Regions from separate parts of the Homo sapiens genome. Here all the other regions are linked to region 3. The links come from fine-mapping of genetic effects on gene expression. A gene starts in region 3. Each other region holds a variant in brackets. All regions are shown on one strand. Distances are from middle to middle. Region 1 overlaps CARD8 (caspase recruitment domain family member 8). Region 2 overlaps ELSPBP1 (epididymal sperm binding protein 1). Region 3 holds the start of CARD8 (caspase recruitment domain family member 8). Region 4 overlaps ZNF114 (zinc finger protein 114).

What was found.
Region 1: its variant is fine-mapped to the expression of CARD8 in blood mononuclear cells (TOPMed, PIP above 0.99). The same link has a PIP of 0.9 or more in tibial nerve and whole blood.
Region 2: its variant is fine-mapped to the expression of CARD8 in monocytes after R848 (Quach 2016, PIP 0.95).
Region 4: its variant is fine-mapped to the expression of CARD8 in whole blood (Lepik 2017, PIP 0.95).

The regions. Positions count from the first base shown.
Region 1 is chr19:48,230,561-48,235,560 of GRCh38, reverse strand. It overlaps CARD8 (caspase recruitment domain family member 8), which reads left to right. Exons shown (of 14, transcript NM_001184900.3): 6 at 1,018-1,158; 7 at 3,068-3,108; 8 at 3,751-3,901; 9 at 4,555-4,784; 10 at 4,861-5,000. Among named protein-coding and RNA genes, the nearest start is that of CARD8-AS1, 23 kb to the left of the region's middle. The variant C/T (reference allele first, on the strand shown) is at 2,112.
Region 2 is chr19:47,997,335-48,005,200 of GRCh38, reverse strand. The region is part of intron 1 of ELSPBP1 (epididymal sperm binding protein 1); the gene reads right to left. Among named protein-coding and RNA genes, the nearest start is that of ELSPBP1, 6.6 kb to the right of the region's middle. The variant C/AAC (reference allele first, on the strand shown) is at 4,026.
Region 3 is chr19:48,251,841-48,259,706 of GRCh38, reverse strand. CARD8 (caspase recruitment domain family member 8) reads left to right here and starts at 3,795. Exons shown (of 14, transcript NM_001184900.3): 1 at 3,795-3,915. CARD8-AS1 (CARD8 antisense RNA 1) reads right to left here and starts at 4,032. Exons shown (of 2, transcript NR_040599.1): 1 at 3,913-4,032; 2 at 1,513-3,356. It also overlaps the pseudogene VN1R97P. RefSeq lists an enhancer at 3,687-3,926.
Region 4 is chr19:48,280,115-48,287,980 of GRCh38, reverse strand. It overlaps ZNF114 (zinc finger protein 114), which reads right to left. Exons shown (of 6, transcript NM_153608.4): 5 at 5,484-5,610; 6 at 373-2,220. The coding sequence ends at 1,103. Among named protein-coding and RNA genes, the nearest start is that of ZNF114-AS1, 12 kb to the right of the region's middle. The variant C/A (reference allele first, on the strand shown) is at 4,468.

The DNA.
Region 1 (5,000 bases), 23 kb after region 3:
CAAAGCAGATTTTGTTGCCAGACGTCCTATGCCTATGTCCATTACCCAGAAAAATTCTTTTAGTTTCACGTGGCTGGGGAGGCCTCACCATCATGGCAGAAGTCAAAGGAGGAGCAAAGGCATGTCTTACATGGTGGCAGGCAAGAGCCACGTGTGGCTTTTGAGCACTTGAAATATGGCTACTTCAAAGGAGGAACTGATTTTCACATTTAACAATTTAAAACTAAATGTAAATAGGCAGGTGTGGCTAGTGGCTGTCATATTGGCCATTGAATATCTTGGCATAAAGGACACTCCATCACTCCTAACCTCAATCTTGATTCCTGCCAGCCATAGGAGGACAGCACCAAGCCTTCAAAAATGAAGAAGAGAAAAGGATCTAGCATAGGACTCTCATGTTCCATATCTGAATAAGGATCCTTGATGGGAAAAGAAAGTGTGTACAATATCCATAATTTTCTTTTTCTGTGAGCATTTTTGTTGCTTTATGCAACCCCTCTCACCATTTGCAGGCAGAAGGGAGAAGAGGAGATAACTGTTCCATGGGTTCTTATAAAACATGCCCAATCTCACTAATGCCCTGCAATCCCAATCATTTTAGGGTCCTATTCTCTCGGGCACCAATTATGGATGAAGGGAGACTACAAATTAGGAATCTCATCCTTTCCCTAAAATTCTTAGCAAGGTTATATAGGTCAACATACTTGTTGACCTATTATGAAACCAATGTTTGTGGCAAATGCTAGATGTTGAGAACTGACTGACGTCTGCTTCCTAGGATGGAAAGAGCAGCATATAGTGGGAAACAGAGAGCCAGTTAAATTTAACATAATGAGATGTAAGAAAGAGTCATGGGAGTCTGAGAGGTGAGATGGAGTCGTAGGGGCCTGAGGAATGACTTCCCTAAGATAAAATATTGAGTCTATGGCTATTAACATAAAATCTTCCTGCACAGCCTATGCTATCATCAGGCACCTACCTTATATTCATAGTAAAAATTCTGTTGTTGTTTTCCAGGGTATACAGGGAGCTACCCTGTGTTTCTGAGACCCTTTGTGACATCTCACATTTTTTCCAAGAAGATGATGAGACAGAGGCAGAGCCATTATTGTTCCGTGCTGTTCCTGAGTGTCAACTATCTGGGGGGGACATTCCCAGGTAAGAAAAGCTATTCCGTTGGAAAACTATTGGACGCTGTGTCTCAATATCACAGAGGAACATGAGAATTAGAGGAATTTGGGTGTTTTTCATCGAACTCAGGGGAGAATGAATGAGCTTATGCAATACTAGCAATGAATCCAGAAATTTTTGAAACAAACCTTAAGCAATGAGGTTTTCTTCCATGGAGGTGTCTAGAGAACCTATACACAAAAAGGCAATGAGCAATGCAATCGAAGACCAGTGGGTTATTGGTTAAGCTGTTACTCAATACATAAAACCAACCTAATTCTCTAGGAAACTGGCTGATGATGAGGCTGAAGGCCACAGTGGGGTCCTGAGGTTTAACACCGGGGAGGGGAGAATGCGTCTATTTGTAGGGTATGCCAATTTCCAAGGGTTGAATATCCCCATCATGGCAGATTTCAAACTACCAACGTGAAGCCCCTGATGAGGGAGTTGAAAGAACACATGCAGAAGTCTGTCATCCTGCTTTCACCACACAGATACAAGAGACATAAATAACCTCAAGGGCATAGACTGCTGAAAAGTGTAGAAAAATGACTGGAAATTGGTATGTTTTAATATGTATTACTTTTGTTTTTAATATGATTTATTTAAATGTTAGCTTGTATCATTTAATTTAGACTAATGGTTGTGTTGAACAACTTGGTTGCAAAAGCCCTGAAAATGGAACCGTCAGCTCTCATGATCTGGGATGCGCTGTCTGCAGTTCAGCGCTGGGTTCCTCCCACTTTCTAAACCCCTCCTCAGCAGGCAGACTCCAGCATGCACATGCACCAGGAAAGAGAATATAAAATGGCATGTTTACTCTTGCTGCTTTGCCTGTAGCTACCCGAATCCATAGCAAAATGTGTAGCCGCAGACAGCAACCAGTCTTAGGATGTCAGCCCAGGGGTCTCTCCATGCTTGGCTTGCCCACAGAATCCTTC[C/T]GAGAAAAGCGCTGTAAAGCCTTTCTCTTCATCCCACTTCTCTAGGTACCTGTTCTTTTTAAACCTAATCCACGTGTCAGTTTCTCTGCTGGTCTCTTTCACGTCGAAATAAACAGATATCTCAAGGAATGGATCAAAGGCAGAGAATTTGATGGAGTTGGTTGCCTTGCTCCAGAAGGTATCACCTGTGTTAGGGCAGGTTTCTCTCCAGAGGCATGACGAACCATTGGCTCACGCTGTATGTCATAGAACCCATATTGGCTAATATTGGAATCACCTGTGAGGCTTTGAAAGCGCCGATGCTTTGGTGCCACCTCCAGACTTCTGATTCAATTGATGTGGGCTGTGACCTGGTATTGGGTGGTTTTTAAAGCTTCCCAGGTGTGGTCAAGTTTGGAATTACCTTGGAATATAAATGCATACATTTTACGCATTGGTGAATTACTGCTTCAGTCTTTGATTCCGACATCGTATGATACCAATCGGAGCAATCAATTTAAGCCAGAGAATCTGGCTGTGTCCACATTGAACGTGGGCATAATACAAAGAGAAGAAGGAGAGATGTCAAGACACATTTGGCTCAAGGGAGTGTGTTATCTCTATTATTTATAAATGTGGATAAAAATATCTTCATTCAAAATGTCTTCTATTTCTTGATAGTCTAGATCCGCCCAGTCTAAGAGAACTTTCTGTGATGACGGGAGTGTTCCATTCTCTGCTACACAGTGTTATAGCCGTGAGTGATATGTAGCTGTTGAGCACTTGAAATATGGATAGTGCAACTGAGAAACTAAAGTTTACCTAAGTTTAATTCATACAAATTTAAATAGCATATCCGGGTAGCGGCTACTCTACGGGACAGTGCAGCTCTAGTTTTCAATAACATCGTCTTCATCTTCATCAACTGATTCTTGATGTTTTTCATCTTTTTGTAACATGGGGATCCCAACCTCCAGTGTATCAGAAGAGCAGGAATCTTCAGAGGGACAAGATTCAGGTAATGGGCTAATAGGGAGAGGAGTGAAGGGCGTGTGGATTGATGGAAATGTTCTGTGATTTTATGTGAAGAAGACAATTTAGAGTCTTTTGTGCAGATCAGGAGTGCTTTCCCTTACCTTTGCCACAGTGCACTGTGCAGTTTAAATGGGGACATGTAAGCCTGTCACTGCTGGGGCATGGAAATGCTCAGGGGAGTCAGTGGGTGGTCCTGGTGGCTGGGGACAGCAGCAGGGCCTAGGAAGGATGCACGCTCTTTCGCCTCTGCATCTTTGGAGTTCGATACTTTTCTGACCTGGACTTTCCTCACCAGCAGAAAGTGTCTTCTGCTATTTCGGACCAGTAGAAATGTAGGTGCATTGGTTCCAGTCCTCAGCAAATGGTGCCTCCCACCAAAGCTGTCCAGCCTGGCTTCCCAGAAAGTCTTATGGAATTTGGTGTATACGTTTAGTCATGACAAGGAACATTCTTGTGCCTTTCTTTGTCTGGATTCAAAGAAGCGAAACTGCATATTCTGGTCACTCTCAGCTCTCATTCGATATCTGTATCCCAACAGCACCTGTGCAATTCAGCCTCCAGGAGTCCTTCAGGCCATGCCTCTTCCAACCCTTTACCTCTTACATGTCTAGTATTTTCTTTTCAGGAGACATTTGCTCAGAAGAGAATCAAATAGTTTCCTCTTATGCTTCTAAAGTCTGTTTTGAGATCGAAGAAGATTATAAAAATCGTCAGTTTCTGGGGCCTGAAGGAAATGTGGATGTTGAGTTGATTGATAAGAGCACAAACAGATACAGGTAAGAATGGAAGATGCTGATGATTTGAAAACCACTCTGATATAAAGGAAGTGTGTAGGCCAGGCGTGGTGGCTCAGGCCTGTAATCTCGGCACTTTGGGAGGTGGAGGAGGGCGGATCACAAGGTCAGGAGTTCGAGACCAGCCTGGCCAACATGACGAAACCCTGTCTCTACTAAAAATACAAAAATTAGTCAGGCGTGGTGGCACCCGCGTGTAGTCCCAGCTAATCAGGAGGCTGAGAAAGGAGAATCTCTTGAACCCAGGGGGCAGAGGTTGCAGTGAGATGAGATCTCGCCACTGCACTGCAGCCTAGGAGACAGAGCGAGACTTTGTCTCAAAATAAATAAATAAATAAAAATATAAATACAAAAGGAAGCGTATCGGTTCCATCCCTTATGATAGCTAAAATTTCATCAATAATATGTTTATTTCATGCACTGTGAAGTTGGTATTTTAATTTCAACATATATAGAATGCAGAGAAATTGGGGCCCAGAGAGGTTAATGAACTCCCCAGCGTTTTCTAATGTAGTGAAAGTCGCAGATGGGTCCTGAACCTTGCCTCACTTCAAATCCCACCTCCCTCTGCACATCGCTGCTTAAATCCAAGTCCTGGGGTTCTCCCGTCATGACATCACTCTGGCTCCTTTCAGCGTTTGGTTCCCCACTGCTGGCTGGTATCTGTGGTCAGCCACAGGCCTCGGCTTCCTGGTAAGGGATGAGGTCACAGTGACGATTGCGTTTGGTTCCTGGAGTCAGCACCTGGCCCTGGACCTGCAGCACCATGAACAGTGGCTGGTGGGCGGCCCCTTGTTTGATGTCACTGCAGAGCCAGAGGAGGCTGTCGCCGAAATCCACCTCCCCCACTTCATCTCCCTCCAAGGTAATGTGGGGTGAGCGGAGGCTGTGGGGGCCGCTGGGGTGCGTGCCGTCTCACTGCTGTTGTGGTTCTCCTGCAGCAGGTGAGGTGGACGTCTCCTGGTTTCTCGTTGCCCATTTTAAGAATGAAGGGATGGTCCTGGAGCATCCAGCCCGGGTGGAGCCTTTCTATGCTGTCCTGGAAAGCCCCAGCTTCTCTCTGATGGGCATCCTGCTGCGG
Region 2 (7,866 bases), 250 kb after region 3:
GACAGGGTCTTGCTCTGTCACCCAGGCTGCAGTGCAGTGGCGCCATCATGGCTCACTACAGCCTCCATCTCCCATCAAGTGATCCTCCCACCTCAGCCTCCCAAGTGGCTGGGACTACAGGCACGCATCACCACACCCAGCTAATTTTTAAACTATTATTATTGTTTGTAGAGACGAGGTCTTGCTATGTTGCCCAGGCTGGTCTCAAACTCCTGAGCCCAAGCCATCCTCCTGCGTAGCCTCCTAAGCACTGGGATTACAGGCAAGAGCCACTGTGCCCAGTATGGGCCCTTTCCTGATGCATGCTTTATGCATCCACTCAGGAATGAGTATTTATTGAGCATTTAAAAGATGTGGGGCCAGGGCTACACGATGAGTATGCAGCAGTGGGTAAAGCAGGCATAGGCCCTGCCTTCGTGGGGCTGAGAGTCAACCAAGGAGACAGATATGAAGCGAAGAAACCAGAAACAAATACAACTCTTCGCTGTGATCATTGCTGTGGACGAGTCTCAGGAACAACTAGGACAAGGTCACTTTTGATTGAGAGGTGAGGGGAGGGTGCTCTGAGAAATGACAGGTAAGCTGACACCTGGAGGAACAGATGGAGGAGGGAGACGTGAGAGGAGCTGGAGGTATGGGGGTGGGGGATACATCCAGGCAGGAGAAGCCGACGTGGAAACTGCCTGAGATGGAAAAAGCTAGATGTGCTCAAGGAGCAAGTGGGACCCGCATGGCTAAGGCCCAGGCTGGGCACAGTGGCTCATGCCTATAATCCCAGTGTTTTGGGAGGCTGAGCAGGAGGATGGCTTAAGCTTAGGAGTTTGAGACCAGCCTGGGCCACACAGTGACACCTCGTCTCTACAACAAGTGAGGAGGAGCAAGGCCACAGAGATGCATGGTGAGATGGATGGGACCGGACCCTGTAGAGCCTCCCTCAGATTCTAAATGCAACCAGAAGGCCAGGTGTGGTGGCTCATGCCTGTAATCCCAGCACCTTGGGAGGCCGAGGCGGGCAGATCATCTGAGGTCAGGAGTTCATGACCAGCCTGGTCAACATGGTAAAACCTCATCTCTACTAAAAGTACAAAAATTCCCTCCACATGATGGTGCGTGCCTGTAATTCCAGCTACTCGGGAGGCTGAGCCAGGAAAATCGCTTGAACCCAGGAGGCAGAGGTTGCTGTGAGCCGAGATCATACCACTGCACTCCAGCCTGGGCAACAGAGGAAGACTGTCTCAAAAGAATAGAATAGAATAGAATAGAATAGAATAGAATAGAATAGAATAGAATAGAATAGAATAGAATAGAATAGAAGCAACCAGAAGCCACGGGAGGGGTTAAAGTGAGGAGGAGTGGGCCGGACACGGTAGCTCATGCCTATAATTCCAGCACTTTGGGAGGATGAGGTGGGCAGATCGTCTGAGGTCAGGTGTTCGAGACCAGCCTGGCCAACATGGTGAAACTCCATCTCTACTAAAAATACAAAAAAAAAAAAAATTAGCTGGGCGTGGTAGCAGGTGCCTGTAGTCCCAGCTACTCAGGAGGCTGAGGAAGGAGAATCACTTGAACCCAGGAGGCGGAGGTTGCAGTGAGCCGAGATCGTGCCACTGCACTCCAGCCTGGGTGACAGAGCAAGACTCCATCAAAAAAAAAAAAAAAAAGAGCAGGGGTGGCATTTATTCATTCAAAATCCTCCATCACCTTTAGAATACAATCCCTAGTCCATACTGTGCCTTCCCTCAAACTCATTTCTTATCTTCCTTCCCCTCCCTCGATCTGCCTTTTAGTTGTTTCCTGCAGAAGCCACCTCAAGGCCTTTGCACTCGCTCTTCTCTTTGCCTGGGATGATCCCTTGACCCCAGCTATTTGCATGGCTTGCTTCTTTGTGCAATAAAGAGTTCTGTGCAAATTCGAAGAATTGGTAGCAACTGATGGTCTGGAAGGTTTATGACTCTGCACAGACCAAGTTATGGATATTCATAGAAAATATTTTAGGGGCCATTCAAAATAATTATTCAACTGTAAAACAAGCCCTAATAGCCAGACACCCATGTCTCGTCTGGAACATCCAGGTGAGGACCAAGTTATGCTTTGGGCACTGGCAGGTTCAGATGCTTGGAGAACCCTCTGTCCTGAGCCCCGGGGTGGTTGGGACCAGCATCCTGCCACCGCTGCTGTTTCTTGGCTGGTCGGAAAAAGGGTTGCTGTGGCTATGGAGTCAAACCACAGGAAAATATGGGGATAGTTTTTCCAATCATCAAATGAGGGAGAATAAACTCCACCTTGGGATCTTATACATGCAGCAGATGCTGGAAAGCACTGTGTAAATGTCAGAGGGGGCATACAAGCCAGATATTTTCATTACTATTTATGAAGACAGCATACAAGCCAGAATTTTTGTTTGTTTTTGAGATGAAGTCTTGCTCTGCACCCCAAGCTGGAGTGCAGTGGCACGATCTTAGCTCACTGCAACCTCCGCCTCCCCGGTTCAAGCAATTCTCTTGCCTCGGCCTCCTGAGTCACTGGGATTACAGGCACGAGCCATCACGCTCAGCTATTTTTTTGTCTTTTTAGTAGAGACACGGTTTCACCGTGTTGGCCAGGTTGGTTTTGAACTCCTGACCCCAAGTGATCTGCTTACCTGGGCCTCCCAAAGTGCTGGGATTACAGGCATGAGCCACTGCGCCCGGCCCAAGCGAGATGTTTTAATTACTATTTATGGAGATGGGGGAGAGACAAATTTTGCCACCTCCTCTAAACCCTTGACTACCTGCAGTGTCATGCTTATATTCCTGCCTGGCCCAAAACCCCAATTCCTACACCTTAATTGGTTCATTAACCTCAAGCTTTCATTTTGACCCTTCTCCTCAAGATTCAAATGAATAATTTTTGGCTTAGATGCTAAGATCCAGACAGGCAGAAGGTTATAATGCCAGAAAGAGCCTGCCCTGGAGCCCAACCACCTGGGTTTCCATGCTTTGCCTCTTACTACCTTTGTGACCCCAACAAAGTACTGAGTTTCCTGGGTCTCAGTCCTCATCCGCACAGTGGAAGGGATGGTGATCACTGTTGCTGCTACAGAATGTTAGTGTCGTTCATAGACGCTTGGTGGGTAGAATAATACCCACCCAACACAAATCTGTCCACGTCCTAATTCCTAGAGTCCACGAATATGCTAGGTTGCATGGCACAGTGGATTTTGCGGGCCAGTCATGGTAACTCATAATTGTCATCCCAGCACTTCAGGAAGCTGACGCAGGAGGATCACTCAAGCCCAGGAGTTTGAGATCAGCCTGGGCAACATAGTGAGACCTCGTATCTACAAAAAATCTTAAAATTAAAAAAAAACAGCCAGCATGGTGGCACATGCCTGCAGTCCTAGCTATTCGAGAGGCTGAGGTGGGAGGACTGGTTGAGCCCAGGAGGTCGAGATCAGCCTAGGTAACACAGTGAGACCCCTATCTACAAACAATCTTAAAAAAAAAAAGAAAGAAAACTAGCATGGTGGCACATGCCTGTAGTCCTGTCTACTCAAGAGGCTGAGGCAGGAGGATCACTTGCACCCAGGGTTTTGAGGCTGCAGTGAGCTATGATCCAGCCTGGGTGACAGAGCCAGACCCTGTCTCAAAAAAAGGAGTGTGGAAGACTTTGCAGATGTCATAAAGCTAAGGATCTTGAGATGGGAAGATGATCCGGGATTCCCCAGATGGACCCAATGTCATCACAAGGGCCCTTATAAAAGAGAGGTGGTGGGATGCCGAGGCGGGTGGATCACAAGGATCATGAGGTCAGGAGATTGAGACCATGCTGGCCAACATGGTGAAACCACGTCTCTACTACAAAAAAAAAAAAAATTAGCTGGGTGTGGTGTAATCCCAGCTACTCAGCTGTAATCCCAGCTACTCAGGAGGCTGAGGCAGGAGAATCTCTTGAACCAGGGAGTTAGAGGTTGCAGTGAGCCAAGATTGCACCACCACACTCCAGCCTGTCAACAGAGCGAGACTCTGTGTCAAAAAAAAAAAAAA[C/AAC]AGAGAGAGAGGCAGGAGAGTCAGAAAACCAGGTGTGACAACAGAAAGCAGAGGTTAGAGTTATGCCAGGAAGAGGCCACGAGCCAAAGAATGCAGGCGACCTTTAGAAGCTGGAAGAAGCCAGGAAGCGGATTCTTCCCTACAGCCTCCAGAAGGAATGCAGCCTGGCTGGTACCCTGATCTTAGCCCCAGTGAGACTGACTCACAGAACTGTAAGAGAACAAATGTGTGTCAAGTCGGTTAGGTGTGTGGGGATTTGTTACAGCCACTGCAGAAAACTAATGCACACACAGGGGGCTGAAAACCCTGCCTGCCACATAAAACGTGCTTTGTAAATATTAATCGTTATCATTTTCATTATCTCTGTCCCATTTGAATCAGCCATCCTGGAACAGGTACGGAGCAAAGGTGTCTAACCTTAGGCTCCCTCTCAAGCCAGCTGTGTGGCTCCATGGACACACGCACAGCTCGGAGTCCTCATCTCCACAATGGAGAAATACGTAAGTGGTTGTGGCTTCGGAAAAGGGTAGCCTGTATACGAATTTCTGCTCATCCGTGTGACCTTCAGAGTGTTATGGAATGTATTTGACTCTCAGCTTTCTTTTCTATATATGAGACAACTGAAATCTATCCCGTAGGACTGTTTAATAATGAAATGAATGTAATCCCGGCACTTTGGGAGGCCGAGGAGGGCGAATCACAAGGTCATGAGTTAGAGACCAGCTTGACCAACATAGTGAAACCACGTCTCTACTAAAAATACAAAAATTAGCTGGGCGTGGTGGCACGCACTTGTAATCCCAGCTACTCAGGAGACTGAGGCAGGAGAATTGCTTGAACCCAGGAGGCAGAGGTTGCACTGAGCCAAGATCGTGCCAGTCTTGGCTCACTGCATTACAGCCTGGGCAGAGTGAGACTCCATCTATGGGGGATGGGGGAGGGGGCAGGATTTTTGGGGGGCGGCCGGGGTGGGGGAAGAATGAAATGATACAATGTAAGCAGAGTTCTTGGCACATGCTGAGTGCTCAACAAATAATCATGGTAAACATAGGCTGGGCGTGCGGGCTCAGGCCTGTAATCCCAGCACTTTGGGAGGCCAAGGTGGGAGGATCACTTGTGTTCAGGAGTTCAAGACCAGCTTGTGCAACGTAGTGAGACCCCCTCCTTCTCTACAAAATATTAAAAATTAGTTGAGCAAGATGGTGCACACCTGTAGTCCCAGCTACTCAGGAGGCTGAGGGGGAAGGATCACTTGAGCCCAGGATATTGAGGCTGCAGTGAGCTATGATTGCACCACTGCACTCCAGCCTGAATGACAGAGCGAGACCCCATTTCCTAAAAAAAAAAAAAAAATCACGTATGTGATAAATATTTGTTGTGTTCCTCCTACTATGTGGAGTTGTCGGTAGACTGGACAGGTGAAATTCCTTCTTGCATGAGGCTAATATTTTACTAGGGTGGGAAAGACAAAATACAAATGAGGTTTTCTGACCAGGGTGGTGGCTCACGCCTGTAATCCCAGCACTTTGGGAGGCCGAGGTGGGTGGATCACTTGAGGCCAGGAGTTCAAGACCAGCCTGGCCAACATGTTGAACCCCATCTCTACTAAAAATACAAAAATTAGCCAGGCGTGGTGACACATGCCTGTAATCCCAACTATTCCATAGGCTAAGGCACCAGAATTGTTTGAAGCCAGGAAGTGGAGGTTGCTGTGAGCCGAGATCACACCACTGCATTCCAGCCTGGGTGGCAGAGCGAGACTCTTTCTCAAAAAAAAAAAAAAAAAAAGAAATGAGGCTTTCAGTATGGGGTGGTGACAAGTTCCTGGAAATAGATAATGGTGATGATGGTGCAACATTGTGAATGTGCTTGTCGCCACTAAATTGTGCACTTTAAAATAGTTAAAATCATAATCTTATGTGTATTCTACCACAGTAACCAAAACCAAAATCATTTCAGAATATGAAAAGTGCAATGAAAAAAAATAATAAACAGGGGAATGTAAACAATCATGCCTGACAGATGTCTCCTTTGGTGGTCAGGGAAGGCCTCTCTGAGCAGGTGATGTTTGAACCAAAACCTAGAGTCAGCCACACACAGTGTGAGGAACAAGCATTCCAGGCACAGGGATCAGTGAGGGCAAAGCTGCTGATGTGGGAAACAATGTGACATGTTCTGACGCACAGAAGGGAGGGCCACATGGCTGGACCCTTCATTTTTCCCCTTAGGGTGGGCCTCCCGCATGCGCAGTGCCTCCTTTAGGCTTGGGAAGTGAGCATGCGCGGTGTGTTTACTGGACTTGTACACAAGCTCGTCTGAGACTTTCTTCCCTTTCCAGTGAAATGTCCCCCAAAAGGTTGGACTCTGCATTTTTTTTTTTTTTTTTTTTGAGACGGAGTCTGGCTCTGTCACCCAGGCTGGAATGCAGTGGCGCGATCTCGGCTCACTGCAAGCTCCGCCTCCCGGGTCCACGCCATTCTCCTGCCTCAGCCTCCCGCGTAGCTGGGACTACAGGCGCCCACCACCACGCTCGGCTGATTTTTTTGTATTTTTAGTAAAGACGGGGTTTCACTGTGTTAGCCAGGATGGTCTCGATCTCCTGACCTCGTGATCCGCCCGCCTCGGCCTCCCAAAGTGCTGGGATTACAGGCGTGAGCCACCGCGCCCCGGACTCTGCCATTTTGTCTCTTAATGCGCATGCCCGGGCTCATTAGCCCAATCCCTGAGATTGATTGATTGATTGATTGATTTTTTTTCTTTTTTTTGAGATGGAGTCTCACTCTGTCACTCAGGCTAGAGTGTAGTGGCACGATCTAAGCTCACTGCAACCTCTGTCCCCCGGTTCAAGCGATTCTCCTGCCTCAGCCTCCCGAGTAGCTGGTATTACAGGCGCCTGCCACTGCACCCGGCTAATTTTTGTATTTTTAGTAGAGACGGGGTTTCACCATCTTGGCCAGGCTGATCTTGAACTCCAGACCTCATGATCCACACACCTCAGCCCCCCTAAGTGCTGGGATTACAGGATTGAGCTACCGCGCCCAGGCCATCCTTGAGATTTTACTGGAAGCTGCTGACTACCAATTTTGGAGTAAGTGCAGAGGAACGAAAAGATGGTGACACTAGCAAACCTAGGTCAGAGCCTTGTAGTTCTCAGCAAGACACTGCATCTGTGTTCCCCATGCACATACATGTACAGAGTGTTTTCCTGAGCGGGCATGTGAGAAGCCACTGATATCAATCACCTCTGGAAGTGGGAACCAGGGGTAAATAGGAGACTTCTTTCCAATTAAGTTTTTATCACAGATGTGTGACTTATGTCTTTAAAAACAATTTAATTATGTATATACCTAGAAGAGAAGAGTTGCAATATTCCCAACACAAAGAAATGATAAATGTTGAAAGTAATGGATATCCTAAATACCCTGATTTGATCATTACTGTCTGCATGTATCAAAATATCACATCAGTGGCTCACACCTGTAATCCCAGCACTTTGGGAGGCTGAGGTGGGAGGATCACTTGAGACCAGGAATTTGAGACCAGCCTGGACAACAGAGTGGGACACCATGTCTATTAAATAAATAAATAAGGAAAAGAAAAAAAATCACGCGTACCTCAATAAATATATACAATTGTTGTGTATCAATAAAACATTTTAGAAACAGTAATTATACATGTATATGCACATACATAATGTGTATATACATATACGTGCACATGCCTGTATACATTATAGATGTGTATATATGTATACAGGCATGTGTAATATACACACATCATATGTGCACATATACAGGTATATGCATGCACATATGCTCACATGAAAACATGCAGAGTTAAA
Region 3 (7,866 bases):
TATTTCTCTGTCTTGTGTCTTTATTTCTACGATCTCTCGTCTCCGCACAACGGGAGAAAGACCCACAGACCCTGTAGGGCTGGCCCCTACACTGAATGTCTGTTTATTTATATGCATAATAATCAACTCACATGTTCCAACTGAACAAACCAAATATTTCTATCCAATTTTCAATAAAAATATAAAAATCTACATATTTCATGTGTTTATGTTTGTTATGTCTCTCACAGCCTGCAACAAATTTAATTTAGCTATCCTCTGAACTACAAGCTTCCCTTTGTTGTAACGAACACTTTTCTTTTACTTAAGTATCGTTATTCCAGAGTTAATATAGTATGCATTCAAATTACTTCTTATTTAGTATTATTTTACCTAGTACCATTATATATTTAATTTTTTCTCATGAAGCCAGGCACAGTGGTTTGTGCCTGTAGTCCCAGCTACTCGGGAGGCTGAAGTGAGAGGATCCCTTGAGCCCAGGAGTTTAAGGTCGCAGTGAGCTATGATGGCACCGCTGCATTCCAGTCTGGGCGACAAAGCAATACCTCATTTCAAGAAACAAAATGGAATCTTTTCCTTATAAGAATCTTAAAGAAGGTGTACATTATCTTGGCTAACTTTCTATAGGATTAAGTGGAAGTTATTGAGACTTGGTCTACAGTCTTCTTTTTTTCATGAGTCAAAAAGCATCTCTCACTTTAGTTACACCTGTATTAGGAGAGTTATGATCAATTACAGCAGTTGTAGTTTCTGAGAACTTGGATAAATACAAACCTGAATTACACAGAATTTATGTAAATCCAGATATTCAAAAATGAGAAATAATGTAATATATGACCAAAGTAATATCAAGACAACATACAATTAAATCACTCAACAATTACTGGGAATATGTATCAAGGCAAGAATTGTAAAATTCTACCTGGTACTTCTGAAATGAACAAGGCAATGAGAAATAACAGTTTATCTTGTCTATTACTGAGTATCAATGAAAGCAATAAGGTGAACGGAAAAGTCCATGCAAACTCCATTTTCAGAATAACGAGGAGACAGATAGAATTCACAGATCCACATGTTTCTCACTGGCTGACAAAACTGTGTTAAGTCAGGGTGAAGCATAGCGGAGGAACAGGGAGGAAGTGCAGAGTGAGAAAACATAAAGAAGTCAGGAAGTGCCAGAAGAGTAATTTCCTGTGAGTAAAGCCTCATACTCGGTGATTTATCGATAGAGTTTGAATACAAGAGCTGTGAGGTCTGGGCAGTTGGAGTGGAGGCTGAGCAGGAGATAAATGTGGTAGAGGCGGTGTGGTTGGGAGATCCTTGAAAACAGAGAAATGCCCTAGTATGGCAGAGTACAGAAATACTACAAAAACTCACTTGTAGAAAGAACATTCTGCATATAATCAGGCATGGAACGGTCCCATGCATTCCATAATAATTAAGAAAAAGATATTGGCAGAGCATTGCTTAAAGGCACTGCAAGAAAATAGGTGAGAAGACCAGTAAGTTTTATTTATTTATTTTATTATTTTATTATTTGTTTTCGAGATGAAGAACAATCAAAGGAAAATGATGGACGGAAATTAACAATCATTCTTGGGCGGGGGGAAAAACTCCACCCACAATTCCTAAGTAAAAAGGGTTACACACATTCTCGGCATAATAAGTCTCTCTCAGGCCAAATGTGTTCATGTGAACACTATGAAGGCATTCCAGCTGAGGTCAGGAAAATACCAAGTATGACCTTCCCTATTTAAGTTAAAATATTGGAAGCTTATTCCAAAATATTGGAATAAATTTGAAATACAGTGATTGAATGGAAGGACATTAAATTATAACTCATTAGACATGTTATTTTACTCTATAGACAAACACAACAAATCACCTGAAATAAGCTATAAAAGATAAACCAGTAAGTTAGAGAAATAATCTTTTTTTTTTTTTGAGATGGAGTCTCCCTCTGTTGCTTAGGCCAGAGTGCAGTGGCGCAGTCTTGGCTCACTGCAACCTCTGCTTCCTGAGTTCTAGTGAGTCTCCTCCTCAGCCTCCCAAGTAGCTGGGATTACAGGCATGTGCCACCATGCCTGGCTAATTTTTTTTGTATTTTTAGTAGAGATGGGGTTTCACCATGTTGGACATGCTGGTCTTGAACTCCTGACCTCAGGTGATCTGCCTGCCTCAGGTTCCCAAGTGCTGGGATTATAGGCTTGAGCCATTGCGCCTGGCCAGAAGAATCTTAATGTACAAAAATGAATAGGTTTTTAATACAACAGACTATCCCAATTCCTTGAAAGAAGAAAATACACCCATTAAAACAGAAACTATGGTGCCTAGAATTAAACTGCACAAAAAACTACATGACCCATATAATTTTTTTATGTTGAAATAATTTTAAACATGCAAAATTAGCAAAGATTCATATAAATCCTCAACCAGCCTATCCTGATGTTAGCTATATATATAATTGTATTATATGTATAATAGTTGTTATATATAAAACTGTATATATACATTTATTGTATTATAATCATATATATACATTTATTGTATTATATATAATATACAACTGTATATGTAATTGTAATATAATAATTATATACATAATAGTATATGTAATACAAGTATCCAACCAGGAAATTGATGTCAACGTATCTTACCATTACCTAATGTGCAGACCTTATTTGAATTTTGTCAATATTTCTCTTAACGTCCTCTTTCTTCTCCAAGATCGAATCGAGGATCTCACATTGCACTCAGTTGTTATGTCCTTAGATTCCTCCAGGCTGTGACCGTTTCTTATTCTTCCCTTGTCTTTTGTGATTGTGACACTTTTGCTGAGCATGGCCAATTATTTTACAGAATGTTTATCAATTTGGATTTCTTTGATGTTTTCTCACGATTAGGCTGAGGTCATGCATGTTTGTCTTCTGTGTTCAGTCAATATGCCCCATCCTTTTTCAAATATTTCTTCATGTTCTGGCGTCAGAATTTGTTCCAATGTTATCTTATATATTCCTGCCCCAGCCCTCGAAGTAACCATTTCTCCACAGATACTTCAAAATAGTATTTAGAAACCAAGGCCGGGCACAGTGGCTCACGCCTGTAATCCCAGCACTTTGGGAGGCCGAGGCGGGCTGATCTCGAGGTCAAGAGACGGAGACCATCCTGACCAACATGGTGAAACTCCGTCTTTACTAAAAATACAAAAAATTAGCCGAGCGTGGTGGCATGCACCTATAATTCCAGCTACTCGGGAGGCTGAGGCAAGAGAATCGCTTGAACCTGGGAGGCAGAGGTTGCAGTGAGCCGAGATTGCTCCATTACACTCCAGCCTGGGTGACAGACGGAGACTTCATCTCAAAAAAAAAAAAAAGTAATATTGATTAAAAATCAAATTGCATGAGAATGCATAGCAGGATACCAAGCAAATACAACTTTTAAATATTACAGAAAATGATATTTAAAATACAAACCAAATACATAAATCATGCAGGCGGATTAAGACGTTTCTGGATAGTGGTAACAGCTGAGAGTGGCTGGATGAATTCCAGAGAAATTTCATATATTGCTTCAATTTTATTTAAAATATACTATTACCTATGTCTTAGATATTTTATTTTAAATAATGAACAAGGATATTATAAACTCTGCAGAAGTAAGTGTAATCGTGTTTTTTTCCTGCCCACATTAAAGATGGCCCAGATGCTTGCACTGACCCCATTGACTGCCCACAGCCATCATGGCGACCGGAAGTCCTGAGAGCTTACTTCCCTCAGTTCTCAGAAAGCCCACCTCCTCTGCGAGCGTTATTTCAAAAGAAGTTGAGAACCAGAGAAACCGACCTAAGGGGATTCTCCCATTTGGCCCGTCCTACCCTAAAGTCACCACCTGCTGCTTTTCTGGAGCGCTTACCAGGTGAGTTTCAGGAGCCCTAGTGTACAGGAAGGAGAAACGGAGGCTTGTTGGTAGGACACCGCCAGGCTGCTCTGTGTTCTGTTCCTCTTAGTCAGCAAGGAAGGAGTACGACAAAGTGAGAAGTTCATATGAGCGTGTCAGAAGGGGAAATAGGGCCCCTCCCTTGTTAAAAACAAAACCCTCTGGAAGCTCGGCATCCTGTCATAACTTAAATTTATGACTTCAGTGACTTGGCTTGGACAGTCTTAATAATCTCTCTCACACTCAATTTGTTTTAATTTCTGTAATAATAATTTTTATACCAATGTTTATGTTGTTAATACTAATAATTTTACACTGTAACTGTATAACTTTAATTATTAGAAGTGTTAACCTAACTAACAAACATATGAAAGCTTCCTAAGGGAAACAATTTTTTTTTCTTTTTGAGATGGAGTCTCGCTCTGTGGCTAGGCTGGAGTACAGTGGCATGATCTTGGCTCACTGCAACCTCTGCCTCCCAGGTTCAAGCGATTCTCGTGCCTCAGTCTCCCAAGTAGCTGGGACTACAGGCGTGCACCACCACATCCAGCTAATTTTTTATTTTTTAGTAGAGACGGGGTTTCACCATGTTGGCCAGGATGGTCTCCGTCTCTTGACCTCGAGATCAGCCCGCCTTGGCCTCCCAAAGTGTTGGGATTACAGGCGTGAGCCACTGCGCCCAGCCGGAAACAATGTTTATTTGGGAATAGAGCATTGCAATTGGGAATAGACATGCCGTATTAAACTATGTGTATATTCAGGGAGATAAAGGAAGACAGAAATGGGGAGGATTGCATATTGTTTTAACAGAATTTTCCTTGGCTACAAAGATCAGTAACAAGGGTGACATTAGTCCTAGGTTGGACCAGCAGTTGCTGGGCAGCATTCCTTGCAGAAATATATATTTTTTTAAGGTTGTGAAGACCTTTATGTAAGGTTGTGGGTTTTGTAGAGTCTTTTTCATCTTCAGGCATGCAAGGATAAGAGCCCTCTCTTCATGGCCTTCCTGGCTCTATTTGTCAGGGTTATCTTAACATAAGTGACTCCATTTTGTTCTGACAACTTTCAGATTTCCCCTTGTGATCAAGAAGTTTCTCTGAAAGCACTCTCCTGCCTCAGCCTCCCGAGTAGCTGCGACTACAGGTGCCCACCACCACACCCAGCTAATTGTTTTTGTGTTTTTAGTAGAGACGGGGTTTCACTATGTTGGCCAGGCTGGTCTCGAACCCCTGACTTGTGATCTGCCCACTTCGGCCTCCCAAAGTGCTGGGATTACAGGGATGAGCCACCGCACCAGGCCTGCATTTCTTTTTTCAAAGAATTACTGTGGCATTTTTTCCAATGTCATTGTGTTCTGTGGTTCTTATCTAGTCTTCACATTTATTTACATAATGAACTTTCAATGATGGATTTCTACAGAATTTTTGTCACTAAGTGGTTGCCTAGAAGTATATATCCTAAGATTGAACATATTGAAATATGAGCTAACTTTTCTCATTCAATTATTGATTACTTAGTTAGTTTATTTATTATTTGGGGGATGGGATCTTGCAATGCTGCCCAGACCAGACTCAAACTCCTGGGCTCAAACTCCTACCTCAGCCTCCCAAGTAGGTGGGATTACAGGCATGTACTACTTCACCTGGCTCAATTATTTATTATTTATAACTCATTGTACATATATTCAGATAACTTAATCTGTGCATTAAACTCTTCCACTTTGTTGATAGTCATTTCTGTGTTTGCTATGTGGCTACATATGTATGCTATGTGTTTCCTCTATGCTTGAGATAGGATGATGGGGATTCTTCAATGGCTGTGTGAGTTGTTATTCTAGGGCACTTAAGTCAAGAATATGAATTGCTTTGGTCAATTTTTTATATCTTTACTGATACTCTGTTATTCTGTTAATTGCTGAAAGACTATTGAACAGATTTCCCACAAGAGTGGAGGATTATTCTATATCTGTTTATCATTCTACCCGTGTATACTATATACATATTGAAAGTGTGAATATGTATACACAAAATTAAAATTGTTATTCTTATTGAAGTGATCTACTTTATACTTAGTAATGCTGTTTAGGTAAAATATATTTTGTCTAATATTATTGGAGGTGCACCTGCTCCCCATTGATTACATTTTTACACAGATAGTCATCTTGCATTCTTTTATTGGAATCTTAATATAACTTCTTTGGGTTTATCCCCTGTAAGATGGAGGGAAATGCTCTTGAAGCCTAATTTGTCTGACATTCATATTGTTGCTCCAGATTCTTTTTAATAACCATGTATATGGTATATCACTGCCACTGTCATATGAGGGGTGGGGAAGTGGCCCCACTTGGAAACATTTTTGCAGATGAGTATTTAAAATGATAAATGTTGGCCAGGCACGGTGGCTCACACCTGTAATTACAGCACTTTGGGAGGCTGAGGCAGGTGGATCACGTGAGGCCAGGAGTTCGAGACCAGCCTGGCCAAATTGGTGAAACCCCGTCTCTACAAAAATACAAAAATTAGCCAGGCATGGTGATGCATACCTGTAATCCCAGTCACTGCAGCTCCCTGCACCTGTACTCTCACACACCACATTCTCTTAACCAGTCCTATTCTTTTTAGCTCCTATCATGTGTACATATACGTTTTCCTGTACCACAAACATTCTGTATAATCTCTTGTGCTATTATGTTTTATCTGTTTAGATCATGGATGTATGTCCAACCCATTAAATAGTACCAAGAATAAGGAACATGTGCAAAATGTATTTGTGGAATGAATACAAGAAGTGCCATAGAGCAGTGCAGTTTAACAGAAATATAATCCAAGCCCCAAATGTATATTAAATTTTCTAGCAACTGCATTTAAAAAAGCAAAAACAAGCAGATACAGTTAGTTTAAAAATACCTATGTAGTTGTATATGTATACACATATGTGTGTGTGTGTGTGTGTGTGTGTGTGTATATACTGATAAGGCCAGTGCGGTGGCTCACACCTACAATCCTAGCACTTTTGGAGGCTGACACAGGCGGTTCACTTGAGGTCAGGAGTTCTAGACCAGCCTGGCCAACGTGGGGAAACTCTGTCTCTACTAAAAAATACAAAAAAATTAGCCAGGCATGGTGGTGCACACCTATAATCCTAGCTACTCGGAAGGCTGAAGTGGGAGGATTGCTTGAATCCAGGAGGTGGGGGCCGCAGTGAGCTGAGATCACACCACTGCATACTCCAGCCTGGGTGACAGAGCAAGACTCTGTCTCAAAAAAAAAAAATTATATATATTATATATATTCTTACATATGTTTTACTTACATATTTGTGTATATGTATTTTATTTAAATATGCATATATATGTAAACATAACAAAACATATACATACGTTTTACCCAAAATGTCATAATTTAAACTTGTCAGCAATGTGAAAGTTATTAAGATAATATTTATATACTGTTATTTATATTGACTTCAAAACCTGAATGCTTTTTAAATTTATGATACACCTCAATTCAAACTAGCCCTAATTCAATTGCTCAATAACTGCATGACTTTTTCTCCACAAAAGTCATCATGGAGACTTCCCAGCTGCAGAAGAAAGTATGGGGTTTGAGATCAGCCATTGAATGCTCCCTGAGAGCTGATCATTCTTGTCTTAGAGAGGAAGAGGTAAATTAGGAAATAATTTTATTATTTTTTATTAGCACAAAAGGGCAGATGGTTGGGTAGCATGATGAAATAATTCCAGTGATCATCTCTAGTCTTGATTTTTTCTCAGATTTATAAAAGAAATAAAGAGTGATGAAGTTGTTTGAGCAATAAAAGCACACAAAGCAACCAAGCAGCAGGAGGATGGTATGGGTGGCTCTGTGTTCAGGAGATGGCTGGGAAGAGAGGCTAGGGCTGTGCAGACGCTGGGCTCTCCGCCGGTGTCTG
Region 4 (7,866 bases), 28 kb before region 3:
CATTTACAGTGTTTCAGTCCTACTGTGCGCTCATTGTGCCTAAGTGAAAGGCTGGACCTGAAAGCTTTCTTTTTTTTTTTGAGACAGGGTGTCACTTTGTCACCCAGGGTGGAGTGCAGTGGTGCAAACACAGCTCACTGCTGCCTCAAGCTCCCAGGCTCAAGCGATCCTCCTGCCTCAGCTCCCCAGGTAGCTGGGACTACAGGCATGTGCTACCACTCCTGGTTAATTTTTGCATTTTTTTTTTTTTTTTTGTAGAGATGGGGTTTCTCCATGTTGCCCAGGCTGGTCTCAAACTCCTGGACTCAAGCAATCCCCCACCTTGGACTCCCAAAGTGCTAGGATTACAGGTGTGAGTCACTGCACCAGGCCTTGAAAGCTTTCTTATTTTTATTCCAGTTGTAGCCTCCCTTCAGGATGTGGATTCACATGCAACATGAGTGGTAAGTGTTTAAAGAGGTCTTTCCTACTTTTTTTTTTTTTTGAGACGGAGTCTCGCTCTTTCCCCCAGGCTGGAGTGCAGTGGCTCCATCTCGGCTCACTGCAAGCTCCACCTCCCAGGTTTACACCATTCTCCTACCTCAGCCTCCCAAGTAGCTGGGACTACAGGCACCTGCCACCACGCCTGGCTAATTTTTTTTGTATTTTTAGTAGAGACGGGGTATCACCGTGTTAGCCAGGATGGTCTTGATCTCCTGACCTCGTGATCCGCCCGCCTCGGCCTCCCAAAGTGCTGGGATTACAGGCATGAGCCACCGCGGCCGGCAGGTCTTTCCTACATTTTTTATTTCCGTAAGGAGTCTCTGCAGTGTGAGTTCTTGTATGAACCATGAATTTGAGACCACGCTGAAGGCTTTGTCATATTCCTTTTAGATTCGCAGTTTCTCTCCAGGGTGAGAACAAATGTCTACTCAAGATGAATGAAGATGAAAGGCTTTCTGTAGACTTTACCTTCACAGGGTTTTTTTTCACATTTCTGTAAGATACGAGAGTTCAGGGAAGATGTTCTCACTCATGCTAACCCCTTGAGCTCCCTTCCAATATGTCCTCCTCACATGTTTGGTACAGTCAGAAAATTAATGAAAAATTTTCCACCTTCCTTTCATTCACAGGGCTTCTCATCTTTGTGAGTCTTAAGATGTTTTTTAAGTCCTGACGACTTTGCAAAGTCTTTTCCACATGTCTTACATTTATAGGGTTTCTCTCCAGTGTGGCTCCTTATATGTGTATATTTTGAGGACTCCCGAATGACTTTCCCACATTCTTCACATTCGTAGGGCTTCTTCTGCACAACATGCTTTCTTAAATGTTTATTAAGGTGTAAGGAATATCTAAAGGCTTTCCCACATTTCCCACATTCATACGGTTTCTCTCCAGTGTGAATTTTCATATGTCTCATAAGGAATGACTGATAAAAAAAGGCTCTCCCACATTCGGGGCATTTATGGGTTTTCTCTCCAGTGCAATGACTCTTGTGTGAACCGGAATTTGGAGCGTTGGCAGAGGTTGCCCCAGTTTGACAATCCTTCTTGTTTGTCTCTGCGGTATACAACTGCATCTGCATGGCGTGAATTGAGTTATTTCTGGAGGTGTTCTCGCACTGAGTAAAATCATACATTTTCTCTCGACCATGAGTGTTGTGTGCCCTAAGGGATCCGTCTTCACGGAAAGCTTTTCCAAATGGATTCCGCTGGTGCCTGTTGGCCCCCGTATCAATTTCATCACGTATATGATGCACAGTGTTCTGACTGCCAGTCCATGTGCTTGATTTCAGCTCTGTTTTTCTCCCACACGGAACCCACTGAATGTTCCACCCCAAGACTCCATCGTCTTCGTTGTTTTCATGTGTTTTTTGACTATCGTTTAAGACAGGATTATACTTGAAAATACTTGAGTCACGTGTTAGGATACATTGTCTTATGGAATCTCCCTGTGAAGGCACAAGCCTGCAGGTAGGTTTAGAGTGGTTCCTCATTTCATGATCTTCACAAATGCTAACAGGAGATTCATCTTTCTCAGGGGCAACTGCAGGTGGCTTCACATTATTCACCCCCTGCCTGTGTGGTTCCTCTGTTTTGGGGCATCTCCAGTCTTCTCTTAATGTGGAGTGCTGGGAACTGATGCTCGTGAGACACACTCTGTTGGCTTCAGGAAATGTTCTTTTAGGAAGAATATCCGGCTGAGGGGTTGCGTCTTTGGTTTTACATGGAGTTGCCCAATCTGAAATACAGTGGCACAAAAGTTAAATTCTTTGTTGAAAGTAAAGGTGGGTTAGAGATGATGACATAGGCAATCTCCGTGTGGATTTCTCTCTTTCTTTCTTTCTTTCTTTCCCTCCCTCCCTCGCTCCTTCCATCCTTTCTTTCTTCCTTCCTTCCTTCCTTTCTTTCTTTTCTCTTTCTTTCCCTTCCTTCCTTCCTCCTTCCTTCCTTCCTTCTTTCCTCTCTCTCTCTCTCGTTCTCTCTGTCTTTCTCTCTTTTCTTTAGACAGAGTCTTACTCTGTGGCCCAGGCTGGAGTGCAGTGGCATGATCTTGGCTCATTACAACCTCCGCCTCCCAGGTTCAAGCAATTCTCTGGCCTCAGCTTCCTGAGTAGCTGAGATTACAGGTGCGTGCCACCATGCCTGGCTAATTTTTGTGTTTTCAGTTGAGATGGGGTTTCACCATGTTGGCCAGGCTGGTCTTGAATTCCTGGCCTCATGTGATCCACCTGCCTCAGCCTCCCAAAGTGCTGGGATTACAGGCATGAGCCAACGCGCCAGGCCTCTGTGTGGATTTCTTTCTAAATGTTCACTCAACATGTATGATAAAAATGTGAAGGGGAAGAAAGCAAGAGGAAGGAAGCAGAGAAAGACATCAGAGATTCTGCAGTGTCAGGAATGTGATGACGGTAAGGTCAGGGGTTCAACATGGAGAGTGTCATGTTACTGAGGAACAGTTCTGCAGAGATCAAGGAAACGATCAGGAATTCTAAGTGGAAGAGAATTGGACAGAGAGTCCATGTGAAATTTTTATTTTTTTGAGATGAGGGTGTCACTAGGTTGCCCAGGTGCTGGAGTGCAGTGGCTGGCTATTCATAGGTGTGATCACAGCACACTGCAGCCTTGAGCTCTTGGGATCAAGTGATCCTCTTGCCTCAGTCTCCCGAGTAGCTGGCTCCATGTGCAATTTTAAGGAGAAAAGGAACAGGCCTTTAGCAGGGAAAAATGAAAATATGAGAGGATGGATAAAAGTCAAAAAACATAAGCTTGGACAGGCACAGTGGCTCACGCCTGTAATCCCAGCACTTTGAGAGGCTGAAGTGGGTGGATCACCAGAGGTCAGGCGTTTGAGACCAGCCTGGCCAATGTGGTGAAGCCCCGTCTCTACTAAAAATAGAAAAATTAGCTGGGCATGGTGGCGTGTGCCTGTAATCCCAGCTACTCAGGGGGCTGAGGCAGGAGAATCACTTGAATCCGGCAGGCAGAGATTGCAGTGAGCTGAGACTGAGCCACTGCACTCCAGCCTGGGCAACAGAGTGCCTGTTTTTTTCTTTCTTTTTTTTTCCTTTTAATTAAAAAAAAATTGTTTTTAAAGACAAAAAGAACAGTGTTTTGCCATGTTGGCTGGGCTGGTCTCGACTTCCTGGCCTCAAGTAATCCTCCTCCTGCCTCAGCCTCCCAAAGTGCTAGGATTACAGGTGTGAGCCACTGTGCCTGGCCTATAGGTCTCCTTAGCTGCTCTGTAGATAACAACTTGAAAATTATAAAACATTAAGTTTTCTCTTTGAGATATTCCTTCAGGTCCTGCATTCTGATGAAATGACTATGCTCACTGATCTGAGGAATGCCGTGAGAAACTGACGCACCAAAGAATGTACTTTCCTCATCCCGATGATTTCATCCCCCTTCCTCTGACCAATCAACGTCTCCAATTCTCCAGTCCCTTATCCTCCATGATCCCCTTAAAAATGAGAGCAGTGGCTCATGCCTGTAATGCCAACACTTTGGGAGGCCGAGGTGGGCGGAGCACTTGAGGTCAGGAGTTTGAGACAAGCCTGGCCAACACAGTGAAACCCCGTCTCTACTAAAAATACAAAAATTAGCCAGGTATGGTGGTGCATGTCTATAATCCCAGCTACTCGGGAGGCTGAGGCAGAAGAATTGCTTGAACCCGGGAGGTGGAGGTTGCAGTGAGCCGAGATCGCGCCACTGCACTCCAGCCTGGGCAACAAGAGTGAAACACAGTCTCAAAAACAAAAAAAAAACAAAAACCCCAGAACCCCCCAGGGAGAAGAATTTGAGCGTCTCCTCCCATCTCCTCGGTTGGCACCATGTAATCATGCAACTTTCTCTTTTCTCTGTTGCAAACCCTGCTGTCTCAGTGGCGAGCCTGTTGCTCTGTTACCATGCTGCTGGCTTACAAACCTGTTGGTCCTGTAATGTTCACATCTACCTGGTACTGAGATGCATAAATGCCTGGACAAAA[C/A]TGCCCTGCACTGTTTTCAGACCACTTCTTGCTCCAAATGAGAGGGCAGACTGGGTTTGCCTAGTTGAAATCCTGCTCACTGGGCAAGCATGTGGTATAAAGGAACTGTGCCGAGACTTTCTGTCAAATGGACACAGGCTTTGGTTTGCTGGGGTTCTGAAGCTGATGATGTGTGAATAGAAGTGCAACAGTGGTCCCTCTACTTTTCTCATCAATGCACTAAAACTCTGCCAAAAGGGCTCAAAACGACCCTTTTCCTGTGCACCATGTTCACCTACATAAGGATCCCCCAAATTCTGTTCAATCACGAAGAGAATAAAAATGTAATGCATTAGCTGGGGGTGGTAGAGCATGCCTGTAATCCCAGATACTCAGGAGGCTGAGGCAGGAGAATTGCTTGAGCCCAGGAGGCGGAAGTTGCAGTGAGCCGAGATGGTGCCACTTCACTCCAGCCTGGGTGACAGGGTGAGACCCCATCTTAATGAAAAGAAAAATAAAGGCTGGGTGTGGTGGCTCACGCCTGTAATCCCAGCACTTCCGGAGGCCGAGGTGGGAGGATCACTTGAGGTCAGGAGTTCAAGACAAGCCTAGCCAACGTGGTGAAATCTGCCTCTACTAAAAATACAAACAAAAATTAGCCAGGTGTGGTGGTGTGCACCTGTATTCCCAGCTACTAGGGAGGCTAAGGCAGAAGAATTGCATGAACCTGGGGGGTGGAAGTTGCAGTGAGCTGAGATGATGCCGCTGCACTCCAGCCTGGGAGATAGAGTGAGACCCTGTCTCAAAAAATAAATAAAATAAAATAAAATAAAATAAAATATAAAATAAAATAAATAAAGTAATGCAACAAACTGACTTCCAGTTTCATGGTGAACCCTACACCTACTACCTGGGGGGCAGCAGCTGTGTCTCTGGAATTTAACCCAGTTCCCATTTTCCAATGCACTTCCCAGAACACGGTTCCAAACCAGCACTGGTCCCATCACGGACTAAGTGCAGGAAGGGGGCCTCCTTACCTATGAATGCCAAGTTCCTAGAATTTTCCAGCATCACGTCTCTGTAGAGATTCCTCTGAGCTGGGTCCAGCAGGGTCCACTCCTCTTTGGTGAAGTTCACAGCCACGTCTGCGAAGGTCACCGAGTCCTAAAATAACACATGCAGTTTGGCTCGGAGGGGTGTCCTGTTATCAGTTTGAACTGTGACCCCTTTCTCCACAGAAAAAGGTAGGTTGAGGTCTTAACCCTTGGTACCTGCAAAGGTGACCTGATTTGTGAACTAGAGTCTTTGCAGATGTCAATGAATTAAGATGAGGTTGTGGCCGGGCGCGGTGGCTCACACCTGTAATCCCAGCACTTTGGGAGGCTGAGGCAGGTGGATCACAAGGTCAGGAGTTCGAGACCAGCCTGGCCAGCATGGTGAAACCCCGTCTCTACTAAAAATACAAAAAATTAGCTGGGCATGGTGGTGGCGGGTGCCTTTAGTCCCAGCTACTCAGGAGGCTGAGGCAGAGAACTGCTTGAACCTGGGAGGTGGAGGTTGCAGTGAGCCGAGATCACACCACTGCACTCCAGCCTGGGCTACAAAGTGAGACTGTCTCAAAAAAAAAAAAAAAAAAAAAAGATGAGGTTGTACTGGGGGTTGGGTGGGCCCTAATCCAGTGACTGGTGTCCTTATAAGAAGAGGAAATCTGGCCAGCTGCAGTGGCGTATGCCTGTAATCCCAGCACTTTGGGAGGTTGAGGTGGGACGATCGCTTGAGGCCAGGAGTTCAAGACCAGCTTGGGCAACACAGTGACAACCCGTCTACAAAAAATAAAAAAATTACCCGTGAGTGTGGGCGGGTGCCTGTAGTCTCAGCTACCCGGGAGGCTGAGGAGGGAGGATTGCCTGAGCCTGGGAGGTGGAGGTTGCAATAAGCTATGATCCTCCCACTGCAGTCCAGCCTGGGCAACAGAGCAAGACCCTGTCTCAAAAAAACAAACAAAATATAAATTAAAAAAAAAAAAAAAAAAAGAAGGGGAAATGTGGACAGAGGGAGGGAAACAGAGGGAAGAATGTCATTTGGTGAGGGAGGCAGAGACTGGAGTGATGGGTCCACAAGCCAGGGAATGCCAAGGACGCCAGTGACTACCAGCAGCTAGGTAAGAGCATGGAACAAATTCTTTTTTGGAGCCTCCAGAAGGAAGCAACTCTGCCGCTATTTTGATCTCGGACTTCCAGCCTGCAGAACTGTGAGAAAATCAATGTCTGTTGTTTAAGCCACCCCATCTGTGATAGTTTCATCAGCCTGAACAGCCTAATGCAACAGGAAGAGGTACAGTCGATTGGTAGAGACTGACGTCCGGTCGTATGACTCAGGTGCTCTTTCTTCTGAGACAGGGTCTTGCTCTGTCACCCAGGCTGGAGTGCAGTGGTGCAAATGCAGCTCACGGCAGCTTCGAACTGCTGGGCTCAAGCGATCCTCCCACCTCAGCCTCCCAAGTAGCTGGGACAGCCAGCACACACCATCACCTGTGGCCCTGTCTCAGGAAAAAGAGTACCTGAGTCACGCGACCGGACTTCAATCTCTACCAGTTGACCAACTGTGTGTCTTTCTCATGCATTAGCCTGTTCAGGCTGTTATAACAAACTATCACAGAGGGGTGGCTACTCCTTAAACCCTGGCCGGGCATGGTGGCTCGTGCCTGTAATCCCAGCACTTTGGGAGGCCGAGGTGGGCGGATCACCTAAGGTCAGGAGTTCGAGACCAGCCTGGCCAACATGGAGAAACCCCATCTCAACTAAAAATACAAAAATTAGCCGGGCGTGCTGGCAGGTGCCTGTAATCCCAGCTACTCGGGATGCTGAGGCAGGAGAATCACTTGAACCTGGAAGGCGGAGGTTGCAGTGAGCCGAGATCATGCCATTGCACTCCAGCCTGGGCAACAAGAGTGAAACTCCGTCTCAAAAAAAAAAAAAAAAAAAAAATTTGGAGTGGGGCACGTCTCAGTCCACTGCTTGTCATCTGCAGGTCATGACAGTTGCGGGAGATGCTGCCACTGCCCGCTCCATAAACGCCTAGTGTCCCCTGTGAGACCCTGAGTTCCTTAAGACAAAAACACTTTCTTTTTATTTTACTTTATTATTATTTTTAGAGACAGTCTTACTCTGTCACCCAGGCTGGAATGCAGTGGAGTGATCACTCCTCATTGTGGCCTCAACCTCCTGGGCTCAAGCGATTCTCTCACCTCAGCCTCTTAAGTAGCTGGGACGACAGCCGTGCACCACCACACCAGGCAAATTTGTTTTATATTTATAGAGACGGTGGTCTTGCTACATTGCCCAGGCTGGTTTTGAACTCCTGGCCTCAAATGATTCTCCTGTCTCACCCTCCCAAAGTCCTGGAATTACAGGCTTGAGC